2 separate regions of the Homo sapiens genome follow, and region 2 is linked to region 1. A link means that fine-mapping ties the variant in region 1 to the expression of a gene that starts in the linked region. Tissue or cell type: fibroblasts. Region 1 holds a variant in brackets; the other region holds the start of a gene. All regions are shown on one strand. Distances are from middle to middle.

The links. PIP is the estimated chance that this variant, and not a neighbour inherited with it, causes the effect.
Region 2: PDP2 starts here. The variant in region 1 is fine-mapped to the expression of PDP2 in fibroblasts (GTEx, PIP 0.91).

Annotation. Positions count from the first base shown.
Region 1 is chr16:66,776,620-66,784,619 of GRCh38, reverse strand. TERB1 (telomere repeat binding bouquet formation protein 1) reads left to right here. Exons shown (of 19, transcript NM_001136505.2): 10 at 5,605-5,757; 11 at 7,286-7,417. Among named protein-coding and RNA genes, the nearest start is that of TERB1, 21 kb to the left of the region's middle. The variant C/T (reference allele first, on the strand shown) is at 4,825.
Region 2 is chr16:66,876,309-66,884,447 of GRCh38, reverse strand. PDP2 (pyruvate dehydrogenase phosphatase catalytic subunit 2) reads right to left here and starts at 3,933. Exons shown (of 2, transcript NM_020786.4): 1 at 3,808-3,933; 2 at 1-217. The coding sequence starts at 163. RefSeq lists a silencer at 3,480-3,659 and enhancers at 3,119-3,891, 4,140-4,219, 6,370-6,419.

The DNA.
Region 1 (8,000 bases):
AGCTCACACCTGTAATCCCAGCACTTTGGGAGTCCGAGGTGGAGGATCACTTGAGGTGAGGAGTTCCAGACCAGCCTGGCCAATGTGACGAAACCTTGTCTCTACTAAAAATACAAAAAAATTAGCCTGGTGTGGTGGTGTGCACATGTAATCCCGGCTACTCGGGTGGCTGAGGCAGGAGAATCACTTGAACCTGGGAGGCAGGGCTTGCAGTGAGCCAAGATCATACCACTGCACTCCAGCTTGAGCAACAGAGACAGATTCTGTCTCAAAAAAAAAACACAAAAAACCCAAAAAAACCATATTAGCTTCTACCTAAGAAATTAGCCAACCAAGTAAGTTAAAATAAGCATAACAAAGGAAATAATGAAGAGATTAGAAATCGTGAAATAGAGAAAAATAATTGAAACATGAGCTAATTCTTTGAAAAAATCAATAAAAGTGATCCTCTAGCCAGACTGATCACAAAGTAATGAGAGAAAGCTCAGATTACCTGTGCCAGGAATGAAAGGTGACATCACTATAGATCTTAACAGATATTAAAAGAGTAATAAAAGAATAGTAGAAACAGCTTTATGTCATGACATTTAACAACTTAGATGAGTTGGACAGATTCTTTGAAAGATACAAACTACCAAACAAAGCTCACCCAAGAAGAAATAGTAACCTGAATATTCCTATATCTGTTAAAGAAGTCAAATTTGTAGTTTAAAACCTTAACACAAGCTGGGCACGGTGGCGCATGCCTGTAGTCCCAGCTATTGGGAGACTAAGGTGGGAGGATCACTTGAGTCTAGAAGTTCAAGGGTATAGTGTGCTATTATCATACCTGAGAATAGCCACTGCAGCCTGGGCAACATAGCAAGAACCCACTTCTAAACAACAACAACAACAACAACAAAACGCAAAACAAAACCTTAGCTTAGGAAATTCCAGGCCTTAATGGTTACATTGGCGAATTCTGCTAAACATTTCAGGAAACAAACAAATAACTTCACATACATTATTCCAGGAAATAGAAGTGAGAGAAACACTTCCCAACATATAAGGCCAGCATTACACCGATATCAGAACCCAGAAACAACATTACGAGAAACTGTTGGCTAATAGCTCTATGAACATAGATGTAAAAATCCTTAACAAAATATTAACAAATCTAATTTAGCAATATATAGAAAAGATAATATGTTATGACCAAGTGGCGTGTATCCCAGGAATGCAAGACTGGTTTAACATTAGAAAATTCATCATATTAACAGTCTAGAAAAGAAGAACAATATGATAATTTCAATAGATGCAGGAAAAGCATTTGACATAATTCAACCTACATCTGTAAACTCATGGTAAACTAGGAACAGAAGGAAACTTCCTTAATGTGATAAACGACCTCTACAAAATACTACAAGTAACACACTTAACGGTGAAAGACTTAATGTTTTCCCCTTGAGACTGGGAAAAAGACAAGAGACTAGGTGTAGTGCCTTATGCCTATAATCCCAGCACTTTGGGAGGCTGAGGCAGGAGGACCACTTGAATCTAGGAGTTCAAGACCAGCCTGGGCAACATAGAAAGACCCTGTATCTACAGAAAAATTTAAAAACTAGCCAGGTGTAATGGTTCACACCTGTAGTCTGAGCTACTTGGGAGGATTGCTTGAGCCTGGGAGGTCAAGGCTGCAGTGAGTTATGATTGTGCTATGGCACTCCAGCCTGGGCAACAGGGAGATCCTGTAACACCGCCCCAGCCACACACACACAGAGTAACAAAAATAAAAAAGATATATAATACTCTGGATTATAAGACTCAACACTGTAAGAACGTCACTTTCAAATTCATCTCTAGACTCATGGAATTCCCAAGCAAAATCCTAGCAGATTTTTCTCTAGAAATTAACAAGCTGCTTCTAAAACTTACATGGAATGCAAAGGGGCTAGGATAATTGAAACTTTTGGGGAAAAAAGTATAAAACCGTAGGACTGTGTTGCCTGATTTTAATACTTATACAGAAATCAAGAAAGCGTGGCTTTGGTGTAGGTATAGACTTACAGATTCTTTTTTTTTTTTTTTTTTGAGACAGAATTTCACTCTAGTTGCCCAGGCTGGCGTGCATGGTACAGTCTCGACTCACTACAACCTCCACCTCCCAGGCTCAAGTGATTCTCCTGTCTCAGCCTCCTGAGTAGCTGGGATTACGGGTGCCCGCCACCAAGCCTGGCTAATTTTTGTATTTTTAGTAGAGATGGGGTTTCACCATGTTGGCCAGGCTGGTCTTGAACTCCTAATCTCAAGTGATCCTCCCGCCTTGGCCTCCCAAAGTGCTGGGATTACAGGCATGAGCCACCGCACCTGGCCTTGTAGACTTACAGATTAAGGAAACAAAAGTGAGAGCCCAGAAATAGACTCATACATATATTGTTGTTGATTGTCTACAAAAATGCCATTGCAATTCTGTGGAGGAAAAGATATTTTCAACAAATAATGCTAGAAAAAGTGGGTATCTATATGCAAAATATGAATCTGAACCCTTATACAGTATACAAAAACTAACTTGAAATGGTTCATAGACTTAAATAAGTATAAGAGTGAAAAATATAAAACGTTAACAAAAGCAGAAGATTCTCACACCTTGGGGGTAGGCAAAGGTTTCTAAGGACACAAAAAGCATAAATAACTAAAGAAAAAATGATAAATTGGACTCCATTGAAATAATTTTGCTCTTCGGAAGAGCTTGCTATGAGGATGAAAGGTAAGCTAGACTGAGAGAAAATATTTAAGAAACATTTATCTGATTAAGAATTTGGGCCCAGCACGGTGGCTCACCCCTGTAATGCCAGCACTTTGGGAGGCCGAGACAGGCGGATCACGAGGTCAGGAGATTGAGACTATCCTGGCTAACACGGTGAAACCCCGTCTCTCCTAAAAATACAAAAAAATTAGCCGGGCGTGGTGGTGGGCGCCTGTAGTCCCAGCTACTCAAGAGGCTGAGGCAGGAGAATGGCATGAACCCAGGAGGTGGAGCTTGCAGTGAGCCAAGATTGCGCCACTGCACTCCAGCCTGGGCTACAGAGAGAGACTCTGTCTCAAAAAAAAAAAAAAAAAAGAATTTGTACCCAGAAACTTGTAAACAGCTCTTATAAATCAGTAAGAAGACAAAAGCAACCTGATGATTAAAAGATTAAAAAAAATGGGCAAAAGATTTGAACAGATACTTCGCCAAAGAAGATATGAATATTAAATAAGCACTTGAAAAGATGTTTAAGATTGGCTGGGCATGGTGGCTTATGCCTGTAATCCCAGTGCTTTGGAAGGCCAAGGAGGGAGAATCGCTTGAGCCCAGGAGTTTGAGACCAGACTGGGCAACGTAGTGAGACCTTGTCTCTACAAGAAAATTCTAAAAATTAGCCAAATATGGTGGCATGCACCTGTTTTAGTCCTAGTTACTCAGGAAACTGAGGCAAGAGAATCACTTGAGTCCAGGAGTTCAAGCTTACAGTAAGCCACGATCACGCTACTGCACTCCAGCCTGGGTGACAGAGCCAGAACAAGACTTTGTCTCAGGAAAAAAATGCTCAAGAAATAATTAGTTATCAGAGAAATCCAAATTAAAATCCCATGGAGATACTACTACACACCACTAGCATGTTAAAAAGTGGTCATGTTAAATATTGGCAAGGATGTGGAACAACTAGAACTTTCACACATTGCTGATGTATATCTATATTCAAGTGTTTGAAACGAATACTCATATGTCACATGCAAAGGATGTATCTCTAGAATTCAAAAAAAATTGGAATCTATTTCCGTGATACCCTAACAGTCCCTTTATCTCTAAAAGCCAACTTTAATGAGTGATAGTTATAGGACGTCATTACCCTCAGTAAACTACAGATCAGAGGAAATCTGAAATATTCAGTGTACAATAAATGTGGTCTAGGATGTTCTTCTGCTTATATGCCTGAGTTTTTGTCACTTAGGCTATAACTAAGAATCTGTGGTAACACACTGCCATTTTCATCAATGCATTAACAAGTGCTTTTTTTTTTTTTGAGCTAGAGTCTCACTCACTCTGTCACCCCAGCTAGAGTACAGTGGCACAATCATGGGTCACTGCAGCCTCAAACTTCTAGGCCTAAGTGATCCCCCTGCCTTAGCCTCCTGAGGTGCTGGGACTACAGGCACACACCACTGAGCCTGGCTAATTTTCAATTTTTTTTTTTTATTTTGTAGAGATGGGGTCTCACTATGTTGCCCAGGCTGATATTGAACTTCTGAATTCAAGCAATCCTCCTGCCTCAGCCTCTCAAAAATGCTAGGATTACAGACATGAGCTACTACCACACCCAGCCTCTTTTTTGAAGATTTTTAAAAAATGAAAATACTTTCTAGGAAAGAAGTCTATTTTGGAGCCACCATAATATTGAAAATGTTTGCCTGCCCTTAAATAATGTTTCTGGGCTGGGCGCCATGGCTCACGCCTGTAATCCCAACACCTTGGGAGGCCGAGGCAGGCAGGTTGCTTTAGTTCAGGAGTTTGAGACCAGCCTGGGGAACATGGTCAAACCCTGTCTCTACCAAAAATACAAAAATTTCTAGCTAGGCATGGTGGTGCACGCCTGTAGTCATTAAAGGCATGAGCCATGGTGCCCGGCCCAGAATTATTTTCCACTAGGGAACAAAAGACTTCAGACTTAAAGAAATAGATACCGGTCATTGAATCTTTGCTTGGAATAGTTACGACTCTCAGGGATCTGTTATAATTTTATGCTCCAAGAAGTAAAATAATTAGGTGTAAATATGATGGATGAGATGTATGCTCTTTTAGAA[C/T]GGTTAAATTACTTTGCATCTTGAGGAGTCAATCTGAGGAATTAGTTATGTTGGATTGCAGAAAATAGGCAGCTTGCTAATTACCAAGATAAATGAATGAATATATTCTTTATAACTCTATTGAAAGACTTGTTTAATAATGTTGAGGGTTAGGTGTTTTTTTTGTTTTTTTCTTTTGTTTTTGTTTGTTTGTTTTTTGAGACAGAGTCTTACTCTGTCACCCAGGCTGGAGTACAGTAGTGTGAGCTCAGCTCATTGCAACCTCTGCCTCCCAGGTTCAAGTGGTCCTCCTGCCTCAGCCACCTGAGTAACTGAGATTATAGGCATGCACCACCACACCCAGCTTATTATTTTTATTTTTAGTAGAGATGGGGTTTCAGCATGTTGGCCAGGCTGGTCTTGAACTCCTGACTCAAGCAATCTGCCTATCTCAGCCTCCCAAAGTGCTGGGATTACAGGCATGAGCCACCATGCTCGGCCTAAAGGACAGCTTAATAATGCCATTCTTACAAAATAGAGCAGTTCTTACTAAATGAAACAAAAAAGATTTCTAGTACACAAGAAATACTGTAGTTTTACTGTGTCAAAGTAAGATACATAATAAGTAATCTATTTTATGATTATATGCACAGGTAAAGATTGGATTTTTAGTTCTTTAATTTTGGGATTTTTAGAAAGTATTTGAAAAGGTCAATGTTATATTTAATGCAGATTTATTGAATAAAACCATTCAGCTGTCTTGTTTGAAATATTAATAGTTTTGCTACTTTATTCTTTAAGCATATGTTCAGAAATACTTCGTATCTGTGGGCGGACTGGATGTATTGTCTCAAGTTCTCATGCAGCTGGAATCTGATTCACATGAGACTCTTTCCAGTGCTAAACTTGCAGTGGTTGTGACGAAGACTGTGGATGCATGCATTGCTGATAATCGTGAGTGACAGTGCTTACTAGTTTTTTTGAAATTGAATTTTGTTTGAATATAGCATGAAGAGTGTTGAAATAGTAGATTGAATAGTAACATGGTTTAGACTAAGTTTCTCACAGGTGGAAGGAAGTATTAGAAAGTATCCAACATGGCTGGACACAGTAGCTCATGCCTGTAATCCCAGCACTTTGGGAGGCCAAGGCGGGCAGATCACCTGAGGTCAGGAGTTCAAGACCAGCCTGGCCAACATGGTGAAACCTAATCTCTACTAAAAATACAAAAATTAGCCAAACGTGGTGGCGGGTGCCTGTAATTCCAGCTACTCAGGAGGCCAAGACAAGAGAATCGCTTGAACCTGGGAGGTGGAGGTTGCAGTGAGGGAGCTGAGATCATGCCACTGCACTCCAGCCTGGGTGACAAGTACAAAACTCCATCTGGAAAAAAAGGCAGCATTAAATTAAAAATTTCAGGCTGTGTGTGGTGGCTCACACCTGTAATCCCAGCACTTTGGAAGGCCAAGATGGGAGGATTGCTTGAGGCCAGGAGTTTGAGACCAGCTTGGTCAACATATCGAGACTCCATCTCTCAAAAAAAAAAAAATTTAAAATTTTCAGATGAGAAACCAAGGGATATTTTTGAGATTAAGAATGGAAAACCCAATTTATGTAAAGAATACATCTCTTTCTGCTAAGTATGAGGTCAGATTTACCCAACACAGCATTACTAGTGAGTGGCAGAACCAGACTTGAACTCATGGCTGCTGCTTCTCACATGCGCAAACACTGAAGAGTAAGAAACTCTATTATTATTCACAAACAACTAGGGAGCAAAAAATAGATGGTTTTTTAAAAAGTGGTTATTGAGGACCTGCTATGTGTGGAGCTTTACAAGTACAAAAATGATTAAGATGTAGTCCCTTCAGGAATTCACAACTTTTTTGTTGATATTAGTATTGTTAGACTCTGGGTGAACTCTGTTAAAAGCCACATTTGGAGAAGTATAGCTTAAAATGGTGGTCTTTTTGACTTTTGTCACATCTCAGCATAGCTTTGCATATGCTTCATTGCATCAGTAAGTCAGTAGAACTGTGGTCAGTTAATAGTGTATTTTAAATGACAGCAGGAACTGATTATGTAGGAAAGTCTTTACTATCCAATCTAGATAAGAAGAGGTATGTAAGGGGAGAGTAAGCATACTCAGCTTTTAGGAAGTTAGTGTTACTTCATCTTCACAGCATTCTGCAGAACAATTAAGAAAAAAATTCTTCAAAAAATTTGCTTTAGTAATATGTCTTTAGTATGGGAAGAAAGAGTAATGAGGGTTATAGTAATAGGCCGCCATCTTATTACAATGAATTTATATTTTATTTATATTCACACATACACATATTTATTAGATGTTATGATATGTGTATATTTAATTTTATATAGATATATAACATTCTGCCTGAATAAACTCTGAAAAATACATAGTATATATACATTTATAAGTTTTAAATTTGTACTATCTTTTTTTCCTATTTTATACTAATAGCTACTTTTGGGATAGTACTCTCCAAGTACCACATTGTTTCTAAACTTCTGGCATTACTGCTTCATGAAAGTCTGGATTCAGGAGAAAAATTTAGCATCATGCTTACTCTTGGTCATTGCACAGAGGATTGTGGTAAGTATTGGATTTATTGAGTGTGGTTATTAAAATAGTAAAGCGGAAATATACTTCTGTTTTTTTTTTTCTTCCAGTTATGTGAAGGTCTTAAAAGTATTGCTTTTCTCCTAGTCATTCAGACCTCAAACTAGTCATTTCAGCTCCTAATTCTCCTTCACTCATTGTATTAAGTCAGTCATTAAGACCTGTAGTTCTACTTCTGTTTACCCCTCTTGATCCCTTTCTGTCCAGTTCCAATGTTGCTCTTCCAAAGTAGGCCCTTAAACCCACAACATCTTTCACCAATATTATTGCAGTGGTTTTCTCACTGCAGCACAGGGAGAAAGCTCCTTCCCTTCTACCTTCATTTTTCAGCCCACTCTGCACATTGCTGCACAAATCTGATTCTGTTCTCCTTGTTAAAACTTTCAAAGATTCTTTCTTTTTCTACCTATTACTGTCTCCTCTCTCTTTTCTCTTTCTTCTCCCCCTTTTATTTTCCTCCTCCTCTCTACTTTCCTCCCATTCTCCCTCTGTTCAATCTACTCCTTCTTACCAATTCTCTCCACTTTCCTCTCTACCCCTCTCTCTTCTAATCTCT
Region 2 (8,139 bases), 100 kb before region 1:
CACATGGGGAACTGTTTAGGGTGGGTGGCACCCGGGAAAAGAGCCTCCATTTTAATTTATTCCTATTTGAGACATACCTGGAGTATAAGCGTCTACCCCCTTGCAATGTGGCAATGCTGTTCCTTGTAGAATTTAAGATCCAGTAGGACACAGTACTTGACATTCTGAAACTATACCAGCAAATGTGTTCCTTCAGCAAAAAAGGATATTTTTAAACCTAAAAATTAAAAAGTTGAAGTTTCAAATTTAATTTCTTTTTTTTTTTTTTTTTTTTGAGACGTAGTCTCGCTCTGCCGCCCAGGCTGGAGTGCAGTGGTGTGATCTCTGCTCACTGCAAGCTCCGCCTCCCAGGTTCATGCCATTCTCCTACCTCAGACTCTGGAGTAGCTGGGACTACAGGCGCCCGCCACCACACCTGGCCAATTTTTTGTATGTTTAGTAGAGACAGGGTTTCACCATGTTAGCCAGGATGGTCTCGATCTCCTGACCTTGTGATCCACCTGCCTCGGCCTCCCAAAGTGCTGGGATTACAGGCGTGAGCCAAAGCACCCAGCCACAAATTTAATTTCTTAAAAATACTGACTTCTGAAAACATTTGCTAATATCCTGAACAAAAATGACTTAGAATAAACTATTTAAAATACACTAAACTCACTCTCACCAGCAGACTATAAGTGTTCATTTAAATATCTGCTTCGGGGGCCAGGCCTGGTGGCTCATGCCTGTAATCCTAGCACTTTGGGAGGCCAAGGTGGGTGGATAGCTTGAGCCCAGGAGTTCGAGACTAGCCTGGGCAACATGGTGAAACCCTGTCTCTCCAAAAAAATAAAAAAAATAAAAAAATTGCCAGGCATGGTGGTGTGTATCTATAGTCACAGCTACTTGGGAGGCTGAGGTAGGAGAATCATCTGAGCCTGGTAAGTTGAGGCTGCAGAAAGCAGTGATTGTGCCACTGCAGTCTAGCCTGGGCCTCACTAGAGAGGGAGTGAGACCCTGTCTCAAAGAAAACAAAAACAGGCCTGACGCGGTGGCTCACGCCTGTAATCCCAGCACTTTGGGAGGCCGAGGTGGGCTGATCACGAGTTCAGGAGATCGAGACCATCCTGGCTAACACAGTGAAACCCCGTCTCTACTAAAAATACAAAAATTTAGCTGGGTGCAGTGATGGGCGCCTGTAGTCCCAGCTACTCAGGAGGCTGAGGCAGGAGAATGGCGTGAACCCAGGAGGCAGAGTTTGCAGTGAGCCAAGATTGCACCACTGCACTCCAGCCTGGGCGAGAGCGAAACTCCGTCTCAAAAATAAATAAATAAATAAATAATCTGCTTCGGGCATAGTGGCTCATACCTGTAACCACTCCAAAGGCTGAGGCGGGAGGATCACTTGAGCCTAGGAGTTCCAAGACCAGCCTGGGCAACATAAGGAGACCTGGTTTCTACAAAAAATTTTTTTACAAATTAGTTGGGCATGGTGGCGCACACCTATAGCCCCATTCACTTGTAAGGCTGAGGTGAGAGGATTGCTTAAGCCCTGGAGGTCAAGACTGCAATGAGCTGTGCTCCTGCCACTGCACTCCAGCCTGGGCAACAGAGCAAGACCCTGTCTCAAAAACTAAATTTTATATACATGTATATTTCCCCACTAGTCTATAAACTCCATGACTCAAGCAACTATGGCTGCCTTACTCACCAACAGCTTTCCAGTGCCTGGCCCTGTACCCGGCACACACTAAGTCCTCAAATACTGGCTAAATATGACATTTTCAGAGGCCCAATAGCACACTAGCTGTGATACTATCTTGTGTAGCATCAGACACACTGCTGATGAGGTAACACTCCAGTTATCTATTGGTGGAATGGGAATATTAGTCTTAGAAGGTTTTGTGAGAATTTAATAAAATATGACGCTTCTGCTAAAAAAAAAAAAGTAGCTATTATTTTCATCATTAGGTATATACCCCTCTAAGTCATTCTGGGTATTTTTTGTTTGGTTTTTTTTTGTTTTGTTTTGTTTTTGAGATGGAGCCTGGCTCTGTCCCCAGGCTAGAGTGCAATGGTAAGATCGTGGCTCACTGCAGCCTTGCCCTTCTGGCCTCAAGGGATCCTCCTGCCTCAGCCTCCTACATAGCTGGGACTACAGGCATGTGCCGCCAGGCCCAGCTAATAGACAGGGTCTCCCCGTGTTTTCCAGGCTGGTCTCAAACTCCTAGGCTCAAGCGATCTTCCGCCCTTGGCCTCCCAAAGTGCTGAGATTACAGGTGGGAGCTACTGCGCACAGTCATTCTGTACGTATTTTTGTAGAGTTGTAACCCCAACTTTGAATCTGGCTTTCCTGATAAGAGTATTTTTTCACATCTGATGGCTACATTTTGACATAAATAATCACAACTTACTTAACTATTCTTTACGGCTGGAAATTTAGAGGTTGTTTCTACTACTTGCTATTTATTAATATAAAATACCAAACTGGACTGGGCACAGTGGCTCATGCCTATAATCTCAGCATTTTGGGAGGCCAAGGCAAGAGGATCACTTGAGGCTAGGGAGTTTAAGACCACCCTGGGTGATACAGCAAGTGCCCCATCTCTACAAAAATTTTTAGATTAGCTGGGCATGGTGGTAAGTGCCTGTAGTCCCAGCTACTCAAGAGGCTGAGGTGGGAGGATCGCTTGAGCCCAAGATTTCAAGACTGCAGTGAGCTATGATCACACCACTGCACTCCAGCCTGGGCGACAGAGCCAGATCTGTCTCTTTAAAAACAACAACAACAACAAAACCCCACCAAACTGTACTGCTTTATGCAGTAACCTTTTCTCTACTTAGGTTTTATCCTAGTTATTTCCCAAACAAGGAGTCAGTAGGTCCAAGGGTGTAGACTCATTGCCAAACTGATTTCCAAAAGCTTCACATCTGCCTCCTCAAGGGGGTGACGAGTTTCCTAGTCCCTTCACTAGCCCTGGTGGTACTTTTCCTTGGAATATAATAAATTAAATTAAATTAAATTAAATTAAATTAAATTAAAAAAAAAAAAACAGAACAAAACCTTGACCCATTATAATGAGCTTTTCATGTATGAATCCTGCCCTCGGGATCTCGAGATCATTTGTCGGGACCTCAAGAGTTCCCAGGACTGAGGACCGTCCCTTCACTCCCCCACCCCCTGCCAGCCCACCCCGCAGAAGTCGGTGCGGGGGCGGTCTGTCCGGGAGCAGAGGGCGCCTGACGCTCCGGCCCTGCAGTCAAGGCAGGCAGCGGTGCAGGGTGATACACCGCAGCCAGGACGCAAACCCTCTTGCATCCTTAAAGAAAACAGACAGGTCCCAAGTTCAAATCTCTGACTTCAGCCTCATCGCTAAGTGCATGGACTCCGGAGCCCACCAAAACCGATCTCCCTAGAACCCCGGCACGGCCGTACCCCAGCTGGGTGCCCCCGGGCGACCCGCTTGGTGCCTCTGAGCCCCGGCTTGCCAGCCTGTAAAACAGGGGCGTGCAGTCGGGACACAGAGCTCCAAGGGGTGCTCGATAGGCCAGAGCAGCTAGTGGGGTGCCCCGGTAGGCAGCCAAGGGTCCTCGGCGAGCCCGCGGGCCCACGTGGCGCGCGCACGTGAGTGGGGTGACCGTGGTCGTAGGCCCAGCTGGTCCCTCTCCGCCGCGGACCCGCCCCCTCACCTCAGCTCTCCCTCCGCCCAGTCACCTGAGCCGGTGCCGCAGGCCGGGAGGGTCAGGCGCCGGCGAGGCCTGGCGGGGAAAGAGGTGTCCACATCCCCCGCTCGTTACCTTCCCTACCTCGGACCCTCGCCCGCTTCTCACCAGCTGGCGAGGCCACAGCCGCCCGCTCCGTCCGGTCAGTTCAGCGCCTGCGCACAGTGCCACAACTGCGGCCACCAGGTCCTCACCTCACCCAGGCGGTCCCTAGTCAGGACCCAGCTCCAGAAGGAAGCGCCCTCCCGCCAGCCCTGGTTGGCTCAATTGCGGAGGCGGGCCCTTGATGGACAGAGGTATTGCCCAATGGCTAAAGAGGATGAGAGGCGGGCAGAAAGGCGGGACCCGGGAGGGGGCAACACCGCCCCTTACCCCCTGCCTGGGTGCTGAAAGTGTTCGAGCGCGGGGCCACAGGACCAGGCAGTCACGTGCCTGAGATCGCCAGCTACGTGGCCGCTACACTCTGCATACCCCGAACCCAGCGGCCTCCCCAATTCCTCACCGTTGTTAGAACACCTCACTGCTTCCTCTCCACTTCGGTGTCGACCACTCCAGAACCCTCTCTTGAGCGCCACACCCTGATGTCCAGCCACCTGGACACCTGCCTCTGGAGGCCCCCAGGCGCCTCAAACATAACTTACCCCAAACTCAGCTTTCTGCCAAACTTGCTTTTTCTCTTCTCTCCTAACCCAGTAATGGCCCCACCATCTGCCCAGAGACCCAAGCCAAAACCCTGGGAGGCATCTTGACTCCTTCCTCTCCCTCACCCTCTCTTTCCAGTTATCTAATGCTGTAAATCCTATCTCCTAAATCTCTCTCCACTCATCCATCCGGCGACGCAGCCACCCTATTCCAAGCCTCTCACTTGATTTTACGGTTTTCCCTCCTCCACCTTTGACTTGGTCCTAACCACAGAGCAGAGCAGCCAGAATGACGCCCCTCCCACCTTTTCTCGTGGTTGGTGGGTAGAGACAAGGTCTTTCTATGTTGCCCAGGCTGGTCTCAAACTGCCGGGCTCAAGCAATCCTCCCACCTCAGCCTCCCCAAAGTGCTGGGATTACAGACGTGAGCCATCACGCCTGGCAGAATGACACTTCTAAAACTCAAATTCCAAGGCCGAGTGCGGTGGCTCCTGCCTGTAATCCCAGCACTTTGGGAGGCCGAGGCGGGGGGATCTCCTGAGGTCAGGAGTTTGAGACCAGCCTGGCCAACATCACGAAACCGTCTCTACTAAAAATACAAAAATTAGCTGGGAGTGGTGGTGCGCGCCTGTAGTCCCAGCTACCTGGGAGGCTGAGGCATGAGAATCATTTGAACCAGGGAGGTGGAAGTTGCACTGAGGTGAGATCATGCCACTGCACGCCAGCCTGGGAGACAGAGTGAGAGTCTGTCTCAAAAAAAACAAAAACAGAAACAAAAACAAACCAAAAAAACCCTCAAATTCCTGCCCTAAAGTCTTTTTTTTTTTTTTTTTTTTTTTTTTTTGAGACGGAGTCTCGCTCTGTCGCCCAGGCTGGAGTGCAGTGGCGGGATCTCGGCTCACTGCAAGCTCCGCCTCCCGGGTTCACGCCATTCCCCTGCCTCAGCCTCCCAAGTAGCTGGGACTACAGGCGCCCGCCACTACGCCCGGCTAATTTTTTGTATTTTTAGTAGAGACGGGGTTTCACCGTTTTAGCCGGGATGGTCTCGATCTCCTGACCTCGTGATCCGCCCGCCTCCGCCTCCCAAAGTGCTGGGATTACAGGCGTGAGCCACCGCGCCCGGCCTCCTGCCCTAAAGTCTTTAGTGGTTTCCCACAAACCATTAAGCTTTGAACTGACCATTATATTGGCCTGCTACTGACAATTAACTCAGCACGGCTGGCGGCTGGTAGGTTGAGAGAGACAGCGAACCCCGACACCAGATAATCCCTCCGTCCCTTCTGGTCCTAACATTGTGGCATTCCAGTGATGACCTGCTTCCTTATAAATTATTTTCACAGAACTCTTGTAACTATGGTAAGTCAGATGGAGTCCTTCCCTGGAGACAGAGAAAAATGGGAGACAACCAGAAAAAGCCACTTGGAGCCCTGAGAGTGTGGTTTTCCAGAAGGAAGACACCCTGGCTTACCTGGGCAGCCTGGCCAGCCTCCTGGACCCAAGGACGTGGTCACAATAAAACTGCTCATGTCAGACTTGCCCTTGTATATTTATAGTTCCACTCACCCTTAGCCCTTTCCAGAAGTTCAAAGTCAGGACTGGCAATATCTCTCTTCCTGCATATTAAGAGGACTGTTTCAGACCCAAACTAAAAAAAAGTCTAAGGGTTTCTAATAAATGAGTGCAAGAGAATGCAAAAGCACACTTCTTCCCTCCCCCCAGCAGACAGGTCATATAGGGTCACAACGGGTTACCCTTCCGGACAGAGGCAGCAGTGTTTAATTATTCAATCTGCAGGTGTTATGGGTGCCCACAATGTGTCAGGCCCTGGGCTGACTGCTGAGACACACAGATGGCGGCCCCCGCCACTTTCCTGAGAAAAATTACATCATTCCACCAAGCCTGAAACCACTGAGTTTTTCTAAGTTACCACACACACCCACTTCCAAAGTAAAAATGCACCCTGGAGGATTTTATGTGCATTGGAACTTTCATTTCAAGGCTATAACCAGTTCAGTCACCCTATATAGGATGGCCAGCCGAAGTCCCTCACCGGATCTCTCAAGGCTTCCTTGTCCCAAGGTCTTATAAGCAAATACGATGGAAAAGGATTACTTCTCTCTCCTTCGAGAAAGGGAAAGCATAGCTCGATTGGCAGGTTTTTTTTGTTTTTGTTTTTGTTTTTGTTTTGATATGGAGTCTCACTCTGTCACCCAGTCTGGAGGGCAATGGTGTGGTCTCGGCTCACTGCAACCTCCGCCTCCCGGGTTCAAGCGATTCTCCCGGCTCAGCCTCTCAAGTAGCTGGGACCACAGGCATGTGCCATCATACCCGGCTAATTTCTGTATTTTTAGTAGAGAGGGGGTTTCACTATGTTGGCCAGGTTGGTCTCAAACTCCTGACCTTGTGATCTGCCTGCCTTGGCCTCCCAAAGTGCTGGGATTACAGGCGTGAGCCACTGTGCCCAGCTGTTCAATTGGCATTTTTAGAGAAAAGATGTAAAAATATTCAGCCTCACTCAAAACCAAAGAAATGGCCAGGCACAGTGGCTCATGCCTGTAATCCCAACAATTTGGGAGGCCGAGGTAGGTAGATCACTTGAGCTCAGGAGTTCGAGACCAGCCTGGGCAACATGGTGAAACCCCCCCATCTCTACAAAAAATACAAAAATTAGGCTGGGGGCGGTGGCTCACGCCTGTAATCCCAGCACTTTGGGAGGCCAAGGTGGGCAGATCACTTGAGGTCGGGAGTTTGAGACCAGCCTGGCCAACATAGTGAAACCCTGTCTCTAATAAAAATACAAAAAATTAGCCAGGTGTAGTAGTTTGTGTCTGTAATCCCAGCTACAGGAGGCTGAGGCAGGAGAAGTGCTTGAACCTGGTAGGCAGAGGTTGCACTCCAGCCTGGGTGACAGAGTGAGACTCTGTCTCAAACAAACAAACAAACAAACAAACAAAACAAAAATTAGCTAGGCGTGGTGGTATGCATCTGTAGTCCCAGCTACTCAGGAGACTGAGGTGGGAGGATGGGAGGATGGCTTGAGCCTGGGAGGCAGAGGTTGCAGTGAGCCAAGATTGTGCCACTACACTCCACCTTGGGCAAAAGAGCCAGACCCTGTCTCAAAGTAATATTAATAATAATAATAAATAAAAGAAAAAGAAATGCTAATTAAATGAACCATTAATTTTTGTCAGTCAACCTGGTAAATATTAAAACAGGGTTTAAATACATAACATTGGCAAGAGAGCATTGCCATCTTAGCAGGGAGTGTGATATGGTTTGGCTCTTTGTCCCCACCCAAATCTCATTTCAAATTGTAATTCCCACTTGTCAAGGGAGGGATCTGGTGGGAGGTGATTGGATCATAAGGGCTGTTCCCTCATGCTGTTCTCATAATAGTGAGTGAGTTCCCACGAGATCTGATTTTGTTTTTTTTTTTTAACAGAGTCTCGCTCTGTTGCCCAGGCTGGAGTGCAGTGGCGCGATCTCAGCTCACTGCAAGCCCCGCCTCCCGGGTTCACGCCATTCTCCTGCCCAAGCCTCCCAAGTAGCTGGGACTACAGGTGCCCGCTACCATTCTCGGCTAATTTTTTGTATTTTTAGTAGAAACAGGATTTCACTGTGTTAGCCAGGATGGTCTGGATCTCCTGACCTCGTGGAGATCTGATTGTTTATAACAGACAGTTTCCCCTGTGCTCTTGCTTGCCTGCCGCCATTTAAAACGTGTCTTGCTTCCCCTTTGTCTTCTGCCATGATTGTAAGTTTCCTGAGGCCTCCCCAGCCATGCGGAAATGTGAGTCAA